Linked DNA regions of Homo sapiens. The protein of the gene in region 4 interacts with the protein of the main gene of each other region in a pairwise test. Each region holds a gene or a part of one and is shown on either strand. Other genes may lie near its edges.

Evidence for each region.
Region 1: the proteins of TRAF3IP3 (region 4) and CEP68 interact in binary tests that used the Homo sapiens proteins (3 or more experiments, as listed by UniProt).
Region 2: the proteins of TRAF3IP3 (region 4) and NLRP12 interact in a two-hybrid assay, tested with the Homo sapiens proteins (one large-scale study listed by IntAct).
Region 3: the proteins of TRAF3IP3 (region 4) and GOLM2 interact in a two-hybrid assay, tested with the Homo sapiens proteins (one large-scale study listed by BioGRID).

Annotation. Positions count from the first base shown.
Region 1 is NC_000002.12:65,080,116-65,083,955, forward strand, and holds part of CEP68 (centrosomal protein of 68 kDa), read left to right. Parts: intron 1-160; coding exon of another isoform or gene 161-222; exon of another isoform or gene 223-735; intron 736-2,420; coding exon 2,421-2,590; 3' UTR 2,591-2,594; intron 2,595-3,523; 3' UTR 3,524-3,840. UniProt on the Homo sapiens protein: Involved in maintenance of centrosome cohesion, probably as part of a linker structure which prevents centrosome splitting. Required for localization of CDK5RAP2 to the centrosome during interphase. Contributes to CROCC/rootletin filament formation.
Region 2 is NC_000019.10:53,814,275-53,818,114, reverse strand, and holds part of NLRP12 (NACHT, LRR and PYD domains-containing protein 12), read left to right. Parts: intron 1-3,126; coding exon 3,127-3,207; intron 3,208-3,840. UniProt on the Homo sapiens protein: Plays an essential role as an potent mitigator of inflammation. Primarily expressed in dendritic cells and macrophages, inhibits both canonical and non-canonical NF-kappa-B and ERK activation pathways.
Region 3 is NC_000015.10:44,294,919-44,298,758, reverse strand, and holds part of GOLM2 (protein GOLM2), read right to left. Parts: intron 1-3,840.
Region 4 is NC_000001.11:209,772,750-209,776,738, forward strand, and holds part of TRAF3IP3 (TRAF3-interacting JNK-activating modulator), read left to right. Parts: intron 1-198; coding exon 199-270; intron 271-2,540; coding exon of another isoform or gene 2,541-2,599; coding exon 2,600-2,740; intron 2,741-2,824; coding exon of another isoform or gene 2,825-2,839; exon of another isoform or gene 2,840-2,849; coding exon 2,850-2,987; coding exon of another isoform or gene 2,988-3,375; intron 3,376-3,989. UniProt on the Homo sapiens protein: Adapter protein that plays essential roles in both innate and adaptive immunity. Plays a crucial role in the regulation of thymocyte development.

The sequences.
Region 1 (3,840 bases), on a different chromosome or scaffold from region 4:
AGAGCGAAATTCCTTCTCAAAAAAAAAAAAGGCCTCTTAAAAGCTTCAGGTTTTTTGACCTTCATTTTAAAATCAATTTAATAATACTTTTCTGTGCTTAGTCCCACTTTGCTCTCTCAAGAGGTTTTTTACTGGCTTTGGGGTTTTCTTTGGTTTTCAGATATGTATCCAGGCTCTTTCAGATTGACACACAGCCCTTCCCCATCCATCTGCTTGAAATAATCAGGAATGTGGCTGTTTCCCCCTTGAGACGTCAGTGTCTGTCTCCAGCGGGTGCAAAACTTAACTTTTCTTCCGCCAGGAGCATGCTGTCAAAAGTCCATAGAGCCAGCCTACAAACATGTTTTGTTCCAGTCCTTCCCAACTTCTTTTATTTGGCCCCAACCAAACATTCTGACAGTCTAAATAAAAGTTCAAAAGCGTCCGTGCGCAGTGGCTCACGCCTGTAATCTCAACACTTTGGGAGGCCAAGCGGGCAGATCACCTGAGGGCAGGAGTTCAAGACCAGCCTGGCCAACATGGCGAAACCCCATCTCTACTAAAAGTAAAAAAATTAGCTGGGCATGGTGGCGGGCGCCTGTAATCCCAGCTACTCAGGAGGCTGGGGCAGGAGAGTCGCTTGAACCCGGGAGGCAGAGGTTGCAGTGAGCCGAGATCACGCCACTGTACTCCAGCCTGGGCAACAAGAGTAAGACTCCGTCTCAAAATAAATAGATAAATAAAAGTTCAAAAACATAAAGTTGTCCCTGAACCAATGTTTCTGTGACATCGCACAAGAAGACTGGGCAAAGGTCTAATGAAACCAGAGGGGTTAGCCAGCTGCGGTGGCTCATGCCTGTAATCCCAGCACTTTGGGAGGCCAAGGCGGGTGGATCACCTGAGGTCAGGAGTTCGAGACCAGCCTGGCCAGCATGACGAAACCCTGTCTCTACTAAAAATACAAATATTAGCCGGGCGTGGTGGTGGGCGCCAGTAATTCCAACTACTGGGGAGGATGAGGCAGGAGAATCGCTTGAACCTGGGAGGCGGAGGTTTTAGTGAGCCGAGATTTGTGCCGCTGCACTCCAGCCTGGGTGACAGAGTGAGACTCCATCTCAAAAAAAAAAAAAAAGAAACTGGAGGGTAGAACCCAGCCCAGCCACCCTTACAGCCAAGCTTTACCGTGCGCCTGACTGCAATCCTCTGCCACACTCTGCCAACTCTCTTTGTGGACAGCACTTTGCCCTGATGACACCGCACTGATGTGGCTTCCCTAGGAGATCTCAATACAGCCAGCCTGTGTTCCTTCTCCTTCTACTCATCCAGTCAGCATTGTCTGCAGATAAGCTTCCTCTTTCCCTTCCTCTACTGACAGATGTTACAGCTGTGGCAGGAAACTAGGGAGAGTATAAGCACAGCTGATAAAGGTGCAGGAAACTAAGACAGCCTTTGTGCTTAACAAAAATAAATTTTTGAAAAAAGAAAGAAAAAAGCCTGCTGTGTGAGATGCACTCTGACCCTAGCCCATCCCTTCCTCACATGAACAACAATTCTGACACTGCGGGAGTGAATCTTCCCTTAGACTGCTTTCGGGTCATTTTTTTGTTTTGTTTTGTTTTTGAGACAGAGTTGCACTCTTGTTGCCCAGGCTGGAGTGCGATGGCACAGTCTTGGCTCACCACAACCTCTGCCTCCCGGGTTCAAGCCATTCTGCCTCAGCCTCCCGTGTAGCTGGGATTACAGGCATGCGCCACCACACCCGGCTAATTTTTTTATATTTTTAGTAGAGACGGGGTTTCTCCATGTTGGTCAGGCTGGTCTCCAACTCCTGACCTCAGGCAATCCATCCGCCTTGGCCTCCCAAAGTGTTGTTGGGATTACAGGCGTGAGCCACTGCGCCTGGCCAGGTCATTTTCTTTTTCAGTCTGTTCACTGAGGCCCACAAAACAAAGGGTCTCAAGCACTCCCAAATCTATTACAGACCACCCATGTGAAATAACATTCTTCCCAGCCAATAGAAACTGATAGACCTGGTAGCAGGGGTAAGCATCTGAACCTTGGCATGTCGTTTTATTTAAGCCTTATGCCCAAGAGGATCTGGATGTGCCCTTACAGAGATACCTGTCTTACCTCTAAAGTCAGGTAATACCAGCCATCAGAAAACCATAATATCTCTGTGCCCTTCTGTGAATTACGTAATTTCAAAGTGGAGTCAGTGAGTTCTTTTCTTAGCTTTAATCAGAAGTTAACAACATAGGTTCTCCAGTGCAACAGAAGTCCCTGGAGAATCACTGTTAAAAAAGGGCAGACATTCAGAAACTACTGCCAGGTCCTACTTTGTGTAAAATACTATACCCTTGTATGTTCTTTTGAAAATGCTTACTGGACAACACTTGCATGGGTTTTATTTCTGGTTTAATTTCTTTGAACCTCATTGTTAGTTTTAGAGGATGTCCTTGGGAGGATCGCAAAGCAGTCTGGTGAGCTGGAGAGCCACGCAGATCGCCTGTATGACTCTATCTTGGCCTCTCTGGACATGCTGGCTGGCTGCACCCTTATCCCTGACAAAAAGCCCATGGCGGCAATGGAGCACCCATGTGAAGGGGTTTAACCTGGTAAGTGGAGGAACTCAAAAAGAAAATTTGCCCACCAACCCTGCTGTAACAGTTGGCCACTACTTAGAAGCTTGTTGAGCCAAGAACTATTATTTAAACAAATGAGATACTGGAAGAAGACAGCCAATGGTACTAAAAAAGGAGTTGCTGGTCTTCCTATGATGATGAAGGCTCACTGCGGTGCTTTCCATTACTGTTCACCCCTGCTGCCTGCTGAGGATGAGGGTGCCTCTGTGCTGCCATTTCTATGGCACTTTCTTCACCACCAACCCTGCCATCCCAAGACAAGAGCAGCACAACTTATCTGTACACCTACTTTATTTCTGCACAGGTACACTTTTCCAGTATGGGGCCATGACCTGGCCACCCCTGTTCTGCAGGATCTTCTCCCCAGCTCATTTGGTACTCCATCTCCAAGCATCTCTGACAGCACCAAGTGCTTAGAGAAACCCAGAGTTACTGATAACTTTGCACCACCACCCCTGCCCTGCACAAAGGGTCTCCACATATCTCCCACACCACTCCCTTCCAAAAAGGCTAGGGGGATGGAGGGGTTAAAGACACCTTGGAGACTTAACTGGTAGTACAACTTTCTTTTGCTCCCTTGAGAAAGTCAAACAGAATGACAGAAAAGGAGCTAGGAGAGCAAAGGTGGGTGTGTCCACCACAGAGTTGCTACTGCCAATGCTTTTCATAATTCTGCAATTGGACTGTCGTACGTCGCTCCTACAACAAAATGTTTGTAGTGCTTAACTCATAGATTTTCTAGGTGAGCACTATAGGTATGCTAAGAGCAGGGAGTCCCTGTGTTTTTATCAGAGCAACTGTGAGACGTCATCTTGGTTCTAAAATGAATGCAGGGGACTGCTGTTGTCGTTTCTTCCTCTACAACATTATGCCTGTAACAAATGCTGCCTTTTCTCTTTCAGGCATCTTCTCAGGCAGAGGTGCAACCTGTCGGCCAAACACTGGCTAGTGAGAAAAAAAACCTTCAAGAAGTCCTTGCAAGAGCCATTCAACACTGAAGTCAAGGGGGAAACCTTCAATATACTAGCTTTAAAATGCCTTTCTCCTCCCTGAATGGAGGGCTGAGTTACTATTTTTATTTACAATGAATCCTTCCAAACTAAGGTTTTCCTTTTGGTGCTTCTCCACAAAGAGCGTGTAGCTTTGCAATTTTTGATAAAATAAGACGTGTTGCCTTCCCCTCTATCCCATTAAAAAAGAGCAGATAAAGCTCAAACTA
Region 2 (3,840 bases), on a different chromosome or scaffold from region 4:
AAGACCCTCTCTCAAAAAAAAAAAAAAATTGCCAACCAGCTGCAGTGGCTCATGCCTGTAATCCCAGCATGTTGGAGGCTGAGGCACGTGAATCACTTGAGACTAGGAATTTGACAACAGCCTGGCCAACATGGTGAAACCCTGTCTCTACTAAAAATACAAAAATTAGCTGGTCGTGGTTGTACATGCCTGTAATCCCAGCTACTCCGGAGGCTGAGGCAGGAGAATCACTTGAACCCTGGAGGCAGAGGTTGCAGTGAGCCAACATCACACCAGCCTGGACGACACAGTGAGACTCTGTCTCATAAATAAATAAATAAATAAATAGTGCTAAAATACACAAAACATGAAATTTGCCCTCTTTTTCTTTTTTTCTTTGAGATGGAATTTCACTCTTGTTGCCTAGGCTGGAGTGCAGTGGCGCGATCTCGGCTCACTGCAACCTCTGCCTCATGGGTTCAAGCAATTATCCTGCCTCAGCCTCCCAAGTAGCTGGGATTACAGGCATCTGCCACCACGCCCAGCTAATTTTTGTATTTTTAGTAGAGATGGGGTTTCTCCATGTTGGTCAGACTGGTCTTGAACTCCTGACCTCAGGTAATCCACCCACCTTGGCCTCCCAAAGTGCAGGGATTACAGGCATGAGCCACCGCGCCCAGCCTCCTCTTAACCACTTTTTCTTTCTTGAGATGGAGTCTCGCTCCGTCACCAGGCTGGAGTGCAATGATGCGATGTCAGCACACTTCAACCTCTGACTCCCTGGTTCAAGCGATTCTCCTGCCTCAGCCTCCCGAGTAGCTGGGATTACAGGCACGCGCCACCATGCCTGGCTCATTTTTGTATTTTTAATAGAGACAAGGTTTCACCACGTTGGTAAGGCTAGTCTTGAACTCCTGACATCAGGTAATCCCACCTGCCTCGGCCTCCCAAATTGCTGGGACTACAGGTGCCTGCCACCATGCCCAGCTAATTTTTTTTTGTATTTTTAGTAGAGACGGGGTTTCACCGTGTTACCCAGGATGGTCTCGATCTCCTGACCTTGTGATCCACCCGCCTTGGCCTCCCAAAGTGCTGGGATTACAGGCGTGAGCCACCGCGCCCTGGCCCTCTTAACCATTTTTAAGTGTGCTGCTGAGTGTTGTACATTTACACTGATGTGCATTCAATCTGCAGAACTCTTCATCTTGCAAAACAAACTCGATACCCATTAAACAATTCCCTATTTTCCCCTTTCCTCTCAATGATAACCTTCTCCAATTAAAAATTTTTGAGTGGCCGGGTGCAGTAGCTCACGCCTGTAATCCCAGCACTTTGGGAGGCCGAGGCAGGCAGATCACCTGAGGTCAGGAGTTCAAGACCAGCCTGGCCAACATGGTCAAACCGCATCTCTACTAAAAATACAAAAATTATTTTTTTGTATTTTTACCACCACCTGCGTGGTCATGGGTGCCTGTAGTCCCAGCTACTCGGGAGACTGAGGCAGGAGAATCACTTAAACCTGGGAGGTGAAGATTGTAGTGAGCCGAGATCGCGCCACTGCACTCCAGCCTGGGCGACAGAGCGAGACTGTCTCAAATAAATAAAAATAAATAAATAAAATGGTGCCAGATGACTGAATCTACCAGAGCCAGCACTGAACAGAGGAAAGACAACAGTTTATTAGTCACACAGACTCACAGGGAAGGTGTCCCCATATGCCAAGAGGGTCACATGAAGCTACAGAGACTGTTGGGGGGGGCGGGCTGTGTAGTAACAAGAGGGTGGGGTGCCTCCTGGCTCCTTCAAAAGGATGTTCTTTGCTTTCATGAATCATTTCATGGACTAGCAACCAGCAGGGAGGTGAAAACTTATCAGAGTGAGGACCAGATGGGGTGCCGCTGGCTCAGCTGATGGGAGAACTAGCCAGGTGGGAAGACTTTCTCATGGAGTGAGAGCAAAGGAACTCACACTTAGGACTTTGGGGGGCCTTCTGAGGACCAAAGATGCCAAGGAAGGACTCGATGTGTAGAATCTTATGATATATCCAAACGAAGGCCTTTTTTGGGCTGGGCACGATGGCCCATACCACTATTTCCAACACTTCAAGAGGCCAAGGTCGAAAGACTGCTTGAAGCTAGGAGTTCCAGACCAGCCTGGGTAACATACTGAGACCTAATCTCTACCAAAAAAAAAAAAAAAAATTAAAATATTTTTAAGAGACAGAGTCGCCAGGCGCAGTGGCTCACGCCTGTAATCCCAGCACTTTGGGAGGCCGAGTTGGGTGGATCACGAGGTCAGGAGTTCAAGACCAGCCTGACCCACATGGTGAAACCCTGTCTCTACTAAAAATACAAAATAAATTATCCGGGCGTGGTGACACATGCCTGTAGTCCCAGCTACTCAGGAGGCTGAGGCAGGAGAATCACTTGAACCCGGGAGGCAGAGGTTGCAGTGAGCCAAGATTGTGCCACTGCACTCCAGCCTGGGCAACAGAGCCAGACTCCGTCTCGAAAAGAAAAAAGAAAAGATAATGGATGAGATGTGGCCCAGAGCTGACAAGGGAGGAGTCCAGACTGACTCAGAACTTCCCAGTCAAAAAGATTGGTTGGTGCCAGGTGCAGTGGCTCACATCTGTAAACCCAGCACTTTGGGAGGCCAAGGCAGGTGGATCACAAGGTCAGGAGTTCAAGACCAGCCTGGCCAACATAGTGAAACCCCGTCTCTACTAAAAATACAAAAATTAGCCAGGCATTGTGGCGCACACCTGTAATGCCAGCTACTCGTGAGGCTGAGGCAGGAGAATCGCTTGAATTCAGGAGGTGGAGGTTGTGGTGAGCCGAGATCATGCCACTGCATTCCAGCCTGGGCAACAGAGCAAGACTCCGTCTCAAAAAAAAAAAAAAAAAAAAAGACTGATTGGATGGATGGAGGTGCCAATGACCATGAGGGGGACCCAGGGAGGAGGGTGCGCTACAAGGAACAAGGGATGAGCTATTTCCCACACACGGCCTATGCAGTCACTACTGAACATTCTGGGGTGCGGGTGACCAGGGAGTTATGCAGGCATTTCGACGTAATCGCAGCTAATATGACGCGGTGCTACTAGCCAGATGCGTGCTAGCTCATCTTCCACAATTTCTCTTCCAGATACCCCACCTGGTGGCCCGTCCTCACTTGGGAACCAGTCAACATGCCTTCTGGAAGTCTCTCTTGTCACTCCAAGAAAAGGTGAGCCTCAAGCCATGTACCTACATGTATTCATCTACACAGAGCAGCTGACCCCACGGAGTGTAGGCCAACCACAAACGCGTGATTGAGGAATTCGTGGGGTGGATTAATGACACCATCAAAGGGGCAGTTTCCTCCTGTGTTTCAACTCATCAACCTTTCCACGTCAGCATTTTGTCCTGACACGTGTCATCTCCTGGCTGAAAGATGGCTACCAAACCATCTCATACACGCAGGGGCAACAAGGAAGGCTAAGAGGCCAGGTACAGTGGCTCACGCCTGTAATCCCAGCACTTTGGGAGGCCAAAGCGGGCAGATCACCTGAGGTCAGGAGTTCAAGACCAGCCCGGACAACATGGCAAAACCCCGTCTCTACTAAAAATACAAAATTAGCAGGGTGTGGTGGAGCATACCTGTAGTCCCAGCTACTCAGAGGCTGAGGCAGAAGAATCACTTGAACCTGGGAGGTAGAGGTTGCAGTGAGCCAAGATTGCACCACTGCACTCCAGCCTGGGCAACAGAGTGAGACTCCATCTCTTAAAAAAAAAGCAAAGAAAGGAAGGGTAAAGGCCTTCTTCCTCCCTGTTACCAGTCACATCCACGTAACCCACTGGTCAGTACTGGGGAATCTGC
Region 3 (3,840 bases), on a different chromosome or scaffold from region 4:
AACAGCACTAAGAACAATTTTTCCCGCAGGAAAAAATTTAAAACATAGTCCTTCCTCAAGGAACTTAAAATTTCGTTGAGAAAACGAAGTTCACAAACAATAAGCTATTAGTAAAAAATGAACAAAATAAGTTAATGAAGCTCAAACAATAAATGTAAATGGTGTATAAAGAAGGAAAAGCATGGCTGGGAGCAGTGGCTCACACCTGTAATCCCAGCACTTTGGGAGGCCCAGGTGGGTGGATCACCTGAGGTTAGGAGTTCGAGACCAGCCTGGCCAATGTGGTAAAACCCCATCTTTACTAAAAATACAAAAAAAAAAAAAAAAATTAGCCGGCCATGGTGGTGGGTGCCTATAATCCCAGCTACTTGGGAGGCTGAGGCTAGAGAATCACTTGAACCTGGGAGGCGGAGGTTGCAGTAAGCTGAGATCGCGCCATTGCACTCCAACCTGGGCGACAAGAGCAAAACTCCATCTCAAAAAAAAAAAAAAAGAAAAAGAAAAGAAGGAAAAGCATATTCCAGGTCAGAAGTCCCAGGGGGCTTCATAGTGGACATGGATCAGAAGCTGGATAAAAGATTGGTAGAATAGGCCAGGTGTGGTGGCTCATGCCTGTAATCCCAGCACTTTGGGAGGTCAAGGTGGACGGTTCACAAGGTCAGGAGTTCGAGACCAGCTTGGCCAACATGGTGAAACCCCATCTCTATTAAAAATACAAAAAAATTTAGCCAGGCCTGGTGGTGCGTGCCTGTAATCCCAGCTACTCAGGAGGCTGAGGCAGGAGAGTCGCTTAAACCCGGGAGGCGGAGGTTGCAATGAGCCAAGATTGCGTCACTGTACTGCAGCCTGGGCAACAGAGCAAGACTCCATCTCAAAAAAAAAAAAAAAAAAGGCCAGGTGCGGTGGCTCACACCTGTAATCCCAACACTTTGGGAGGCCAAGGCGGGTGGATCATGAGGTCAGGAGATCAAGATGGAGACCATCCTGACTAACATGGTGAAACCCCTTCTCTACTCAAAATACAAAAAATTTAGCTGGGCCTGGTGGCGGGTGCCTGTAGTCCTAGCTACTCAGGAGGCTGAGGCAGGAGAATGGTGTGAACCCGGGAGGCGGAGCTTGCAGTGAGCCAAGATCACACCACTGCACTCCAGCCTGGGCGACAGAGCAAGACTCTGCCTCAATTAAAAAAAAAAAAACAAAAAAAAATTGGTATAATAAATATACAGAAAAGAGGCAAGAAACTAAGAGTCAAACAGCAGGAACAAAGGCACAGAAACAGGAATTAACATGACACAGAAAGGCAGGTGGGAAGGCAAAAGTAAGCAAAACAATCAGCCTGAAATACAATTTGGGTCAGGAGATAGTGGGAGACAAAGGTAGCTAGAGCCATTCTATGGAAGACCTTAAAGATGAGACAGCAGAATTCTAACCTGATGTAGTCAGTGAGTCATACAGCCACTCTGAAAATAAGGTTTGAGGAAGTTCAGGCTGGCTTCACAGGAGAACTGACAAAAAGAAATGGAGACCAAGGAAAGGGGACTAGTTAGGGATCTGCCAAGTTCTCTATTCTGCAGTCAGAATGACGTTTTTTTTAATTCGATCAAGTAACTCCTCTGCATGTTGAAGCACTCAATATGATACACTGAAGGAATCAAAGACAACACCAAATTTCTAACCTCAGTCTTAAATAACAGTTGCATGGGCATCATTTATAGGAACCAAGAAGGTAGGAAAGGGATATCGTTTGGAAGAGTTATCAGTTTTGATTGGTTTATGAATAATTTGAGGTAGAAATTACAGTTAAAAGTTGGCCAGATTATGGCTGGTGAGGCAGAGGCAAAGGCAGGAATTATCATGTGCAGCATATTAGAACTGTAGAAGGTTGATACTCAAATTACAGAAGAACAGGCAAGCTCTAGGGAGTCAGCTAAGACACCTATGGGAGGAGCCAACTAAGCCTAACTGGAAATGAACCAGGAAACTGAAAACAAGCAAATAACAAAAACAGTCAGACATTCAGGAGCAAAGGGTGAGGCAGGTAGGCTAGGGCTGGGACCAGATCTTGGGCAGGAACACAGACAGAGTCCCATCCTGGAAAAAAGGCAGAAAAGAAATAAGGAAGTAGCTGTAGAATAACAATGTAGTAGGCACTGTTTTAAGAATTTTAATCAATTTACTCAAACCTCTCAAGAATAAGAGAGACTACTATTATATTCCAAAATTTTCCCCCAAAAAGCATTTTTTTGTAATACGCTTCTCATCCTCCTTTCTGACATATGACCTTTTCCCCATTCAACTAAAGGCATAGGCTGCCTCAAGGAAAATTATGGTTGTTAAAGGGAAAAAAGGTCATTTACTATTCAGCTTCAAACCTCAAAACTGATGTGTGTGTATGTGTGTGTATGTGTGTAATAAAACGACAATTTTGAGGACTTTTTCTACATTCTAACAGCTCCTTTTATTTATCAAGAGCTTGACGTGCCACAGCTGGACCACATAGCTTTAGTATGAGCTACAGTTTGCAAGAATCCAAGTTTAGGAGCCAAGCACAGTGGTGCACACCTGTAGTTTCAGCTACTCAGAAGGCTTAAACAGGAGGACCTTCACTTGAGACCAGGAGTTCCTGGCTGTGGTGTGCTATGATCACACCTATGAATAGCTACTGCATTCTAGCCTGGGCAATGTAGTAAGACCCCATCTCTTTAAAAGACAAAGAGAGAGAGAATAATAATCAAAGTTAAGAGACATGCCCTGTACTGAGGAAAGAGAAATAAGGACTTTTCTGATAAAAGAGGAAATAAAAGGGTGTCTGTGTGTGTGTGTGTGTGTGTGTGTGTGTGTATGTGTGGTGGATCTCCCTTGTTCTAAGATGAACTGTGTTTCCCCCAAATTCACATGTTGAAGTCCCAGCCTCCAGGATCTCAGAATGTAACTGTATTTGGAGACAAGGTCTTTAAAGTGCTTAAGTTACAGTGGGTCTAATCCAATATGACTCGTATCCTTTTAAGAAGAGGAAAAGACACCAAGGATGTGTGCATACAGAGGGACTATCATGTCACAATAAAGCAGCAAGAAGGTTGCCATCTGCAAGCCAAGGAGAGAAGTTCAGAGAAAAACAACCCTGCTGGCACCTTGGTCTTAGACTTCCAACCTTCAAAAATGTGAGAAAATAAATTTCTGCTGTTTAAGCCACCTAGTCTGTGGCATTTTGTTATGGCAGCCCTAGCAAACTAATACACCCCTCCAGGCTGAAACCCTTTAGAGGGAAGTTTAAAAAATCAGAAAGTTTGAGGGAATCTCAGAGAAGTGGGGGTTGTTTCTCACTTCTTTGGACAAGACAGGAGCAACTTAAAGCTCCCTTAAAGAATTTCCATGTTCAAGGCCGGATGTGGTGGGTCATGCCTGTAATCCAGCACTTTGGGAGGCCAAGGTGGGCAGATCACTTGAGGTCAGGAGTTAAAGACCAGCCTGGCCAACATGGTGAAACCCTGTCTCTACTAAAAAATCAAAAATTAGCCAGGCATGGTGGCATGCACCTGTAGTCTCAGCTACTCAGGAGGATGAGGCAGGAGAATCACTTCAGCCCGGCGGGTGGAGGTTGAAGTGAGCTGAGACTGCGCCACTGCGCTCCAGCCTGGGTGACAGAGTGAGGCTCCATCTCAGAAAAAAAAAAAAAAAGGAATTTATGTGTTTAGTAACCCAGGTAACAGACTGGAAGTGACAGAATGGCATAATAATGTGAAAGAAACCAAATATCACCTTTCTGATTCCTCTGGAGAAAGGATTCCTTGATTTCCAAAGATAACCTTATAGTAGCAACGAGCATATCTGCCAAGCAGA
Region 4 (3,989 bases):
CTTGTCCTAGTCCAGAGAAACAGGAGAAGATCCTCTTCTATCCAGCATCCTTTGTCATCTTTGCTCCTGCCTGCCTCCTGAAAGAGTTCACTGTTTGAGCACCAACCATGTGCTGGGCAGTAGAATAGGAATATAGAGTCAAACTCTTTGCAGACTAGATTTTGCCCCAAGCTCATTAACTCATCCCATTTGCTCCAGGGACAGCTTAATGAAGACAAACTGAAGGGGAAACTGAGATCCTTAGAAAACCAGCTATACACCTGTACCCAGGTAAGCATTCTGAAGGATACTTCCATCTCAGGAATCTAGAATTAAATGAGAAGAATGTTTTTGAACCTCAATCTTACTTTCGAGAAACACCACCAGATAGAGAATAACACACCCATTCCTACTTACCCATTTCTGGCTTGGCCATTTACACTTTAGTCTCTAATTCACTAGATCACTGTCTCCATCCTTCTTCCTCTCCCTTTCTCCCAGTATCCTTCTCTTTGCACCCTGGAGGAATCCCAGCACTAACCAGTTTGTCAGCTCCAGGGGAACCTTGAGAATACCTGACACTGTAGGGGAAGGCCCTTGGTAAAGACTCACATCACCCAGACAGCCCTTTACGCATCCTAATCTTTGAACAGATGAGTTAGATGTTATAATGAAGTCTTACAAAATTATTTTCATTCCATGGGTAACTTTTTTCTGTTTTTTCTAGCAACCCCTGGAAGAATGTAAAAGCTCTTTTACTTGGCTCTTCTGTAACACCATTTTCCAGCATTAGTAATCTCTTGATTGGCCTAATCTTGGTTTATAAGAGATAGAAAGAAATCAGCTTTCACATTTGAGAAGTGATGGATACCTGACAGGTGGGAAGATATCAAATCAGAGAATGGGGTGAAACAGGCAGAATTCTCCCATCTGGAGTTAGAGAGAGAAGACAGTCCTGGCCACATTGATGGCGTCTTACAGGGGAAGAGAGTTTATGGAGTCTATAAGTTTCTTGGTCCACAACTTTCATTTTTTCAGTATAACTTGCTTTGTCAGGACTAAATAATGCCAACCAAGTTCACAGGAGACTAATATATAATCCAGAATGCCAGTCTATTCATTTTCAATAGGGAATAACACATAACCAGTGCCCAGCATGGATGGTCATTGGATGTCCAATAACTGGGACATCCCCTACATATGACCTCAACCAGGTTAATTCCTGGATCTGGTTTTTAATGAAAGTTCCAAAACTATAAGACCCACTCAAATTTAAATCCAAAATTTCAGACAATTCCAAAGCTAAATGGAAATGATTTCATATTGATCCCTAAATTGTTGTCATCTGGTCTACTGCTTACACAGTAGGTAATCCAGAATTGACAATAAAATCTGCCTGCCTTCTCCGAAATCACAGGGCATAAAGATGAAAGAAAGGGAGAAGGCAAGACCCCCAGTGAATTTGCAAAGCTGCGCTTGTGTCTCCTTAATCCTGCAGCCAGGAGGAATTTTATAATGCAAATGTATTAATTTTAAAACATGAAGTTCATTAGGCATTGTAAAGAAGCTACAATGATTTTTTTTTAAAGCAGCAGCAGTATGCTCCCTCCCTGAAGGAGTTTACAATCCAGTATGAAAGACAGATGAGTCAATAGAGTAGAATAATAGAGGCATGCAGGGGATACTATGTGAACACCATGAACCCTAAGAAAAGCTACCTAATCCATAAGACATTGTGGGATGGGGGTAGTTGGTCAATTTATCAGAACTGATGATACTGGACTGAATCTTGAGTATTAGTAGAAGTTAACTGGCTGTAGGCAGAAGAAGCTACATGGGTAAAGGCAGAGCCCCAAAAAACAGAGTGCTGGGGGATCTGCAAACATCTCAGCTTAGGTGGAAGTAGCATGGGATGAAAGTCTAGGCGTGTAAGAGGAGCCATGACAAGGAGTTTGGATGTGATTCTTAGTATGCTGAGAATCCATGGAGAGATTTATACAGGAAGTGGCAAGATCAGATTTGCATTTTAGAAAGAACCCTCTAAATGCAGAACTGAAAAGGGACTGAAGGGAGGCAAGATTTGAAGAAAGGGAGGCTGTTGCATTAATCCACATAACACTACTACTAGAGCCTGAACTAAGGAAGCAGCAGTAGGGATAGAGAGGAGACAGATATGAGCTGTTAAGGAAATTGTCAAGGCTCAATGACCAACTGATTAGAGGGGGAGGAAGTGAGAGAGAAAATGAAGATTGACTCCCTGGTTTAGGGTTTGGAAAAGCCTGGATGGATGATGATTCTGGTCACTGAGATAGGAACCCCAAGAAAAAAGAACATGTTTAGAAAGATGAGTCCTGTTTAGACATCTTGGATTCCAAGAGCTTGCAGAAGGCCTCAGATATAATGCCCAGGAAGCCTAGGGCACTGTTTATTATGCCCTCCACTCATCTCTCATTGCCTGAGGGACTCTTCTTGCTAGCTCTACCCTAAAAGAAATGGCTCACTAGATTACTGGTATCTCTGCCTGGGGGAAGAACCAACTTCTTTTCATTTCTGTATCCCAGCTCAGGATTTGGCACACAGAAGCTCAATGTGTATTTGTTGAATTGCATCAAATTTACAGAAATACTCCCCTTGGGGAATGAAAAAAGTACTACTGGAGATGGAAGACCAGAAAAACAGCTATGAGCAGAAGGCCAAGGAGTCACTGCAGAAAGTGCTGGAGGAGAAAATGAATGCAGAGCAGCAACTACAGAGCACACAGGTATGGGGATGCCACATAGACATGGGGCTGGGGACTCCAGGCAGCTTGGGGAACAAGGGGAGCCAGCTGCACAACTCCCTGGAGCCCTCTCCTCTCTGATCTCCCTCAGCGATCCCTGGCCCTGGCAGAGCAGAAGTGTGAAGAGTGGAGGAGCCAGTATGAGGCTCTGAAGGAGGACTGGAGGACCCTTGGGACCCAGCACAGGGAGCTGGAGAGCCAACTCCACGTGCTTCAGTCCAAACTGCAGGTACCAGGCACTGGGGGTGGGGAGGGAAGACAGGGTATGGGGAGGAGGGATGGTGATGAAAGAAGCTGTTCTGGATTAGGGACTCCAAAGGCAGCTGACAGCATCTGGCTTTCAGTTCCTCAGTCACCACTACTTTGTACCAAATTCACTGTTTTGGCTCTGAAATCTAATTTTGAGTTTAGCAAGGATGTCTGCATTGCTCATGCAAATGAACTAAGCGTTCATTGGAATGACACCATCACCACCCAAATGAAAAGAACTGGCTGGAATATTCATCAGCCTACTAATGTCATCTCCCAACCCACTCTCCAAACTCCATCCCAAAAAAGCATCCAGTTCAGAATTGCCCACTGTTGGCAAAGAAAGAATGTCACTAATTTATTTACAGGTGAGTATTAACACTTTCTGCCAATGTGTATTTTAAGCAATTACATTTAGCAATTACAATTAGATTCTTGGCATCCTCAAGGGTTCCATCATCTTCAATCTGTCCTAAGCCTCAGTTTCCCCATCTCTAAAATGAGGATAATAGTACCTACATCATAAGGTGGTTCTGAGTATTAAGTAAGATGATCCATGTAAAGCACTTAGCACAATGCCTGGCACACAAAAACACTCAGTAAATATTAGCTATTATTTTGCATAGATTTATTTACCTGGTTTGGAATTTTGAGGATCCACCTCAAAAGCTGATCTTTGTAATTTTCCTGAAGCAGGGCTCAGAACAGCCCACTTGATAAGAGACAGAGTATGTGAGTCTTATCAAAGGAGTGAACCCAGCTGGTCACTCTGCGTGGTATCCACAGCTCAACCTTTGTTGTTTTCTTCTTCCCATCACCTATAAGGCAACTCCTATGAAGATTTTTGTGAGGGGTTTTTTAACTTTAAATCTTTGTGGAAAAAAAAAGACCCTAACCAAAAAAAAAACTGATACTGCCAGAAGTAGAAAAAAGAGAAAATGAAAACATCCAGAAAACTAATGACTTTGTATTCCTTAATTTG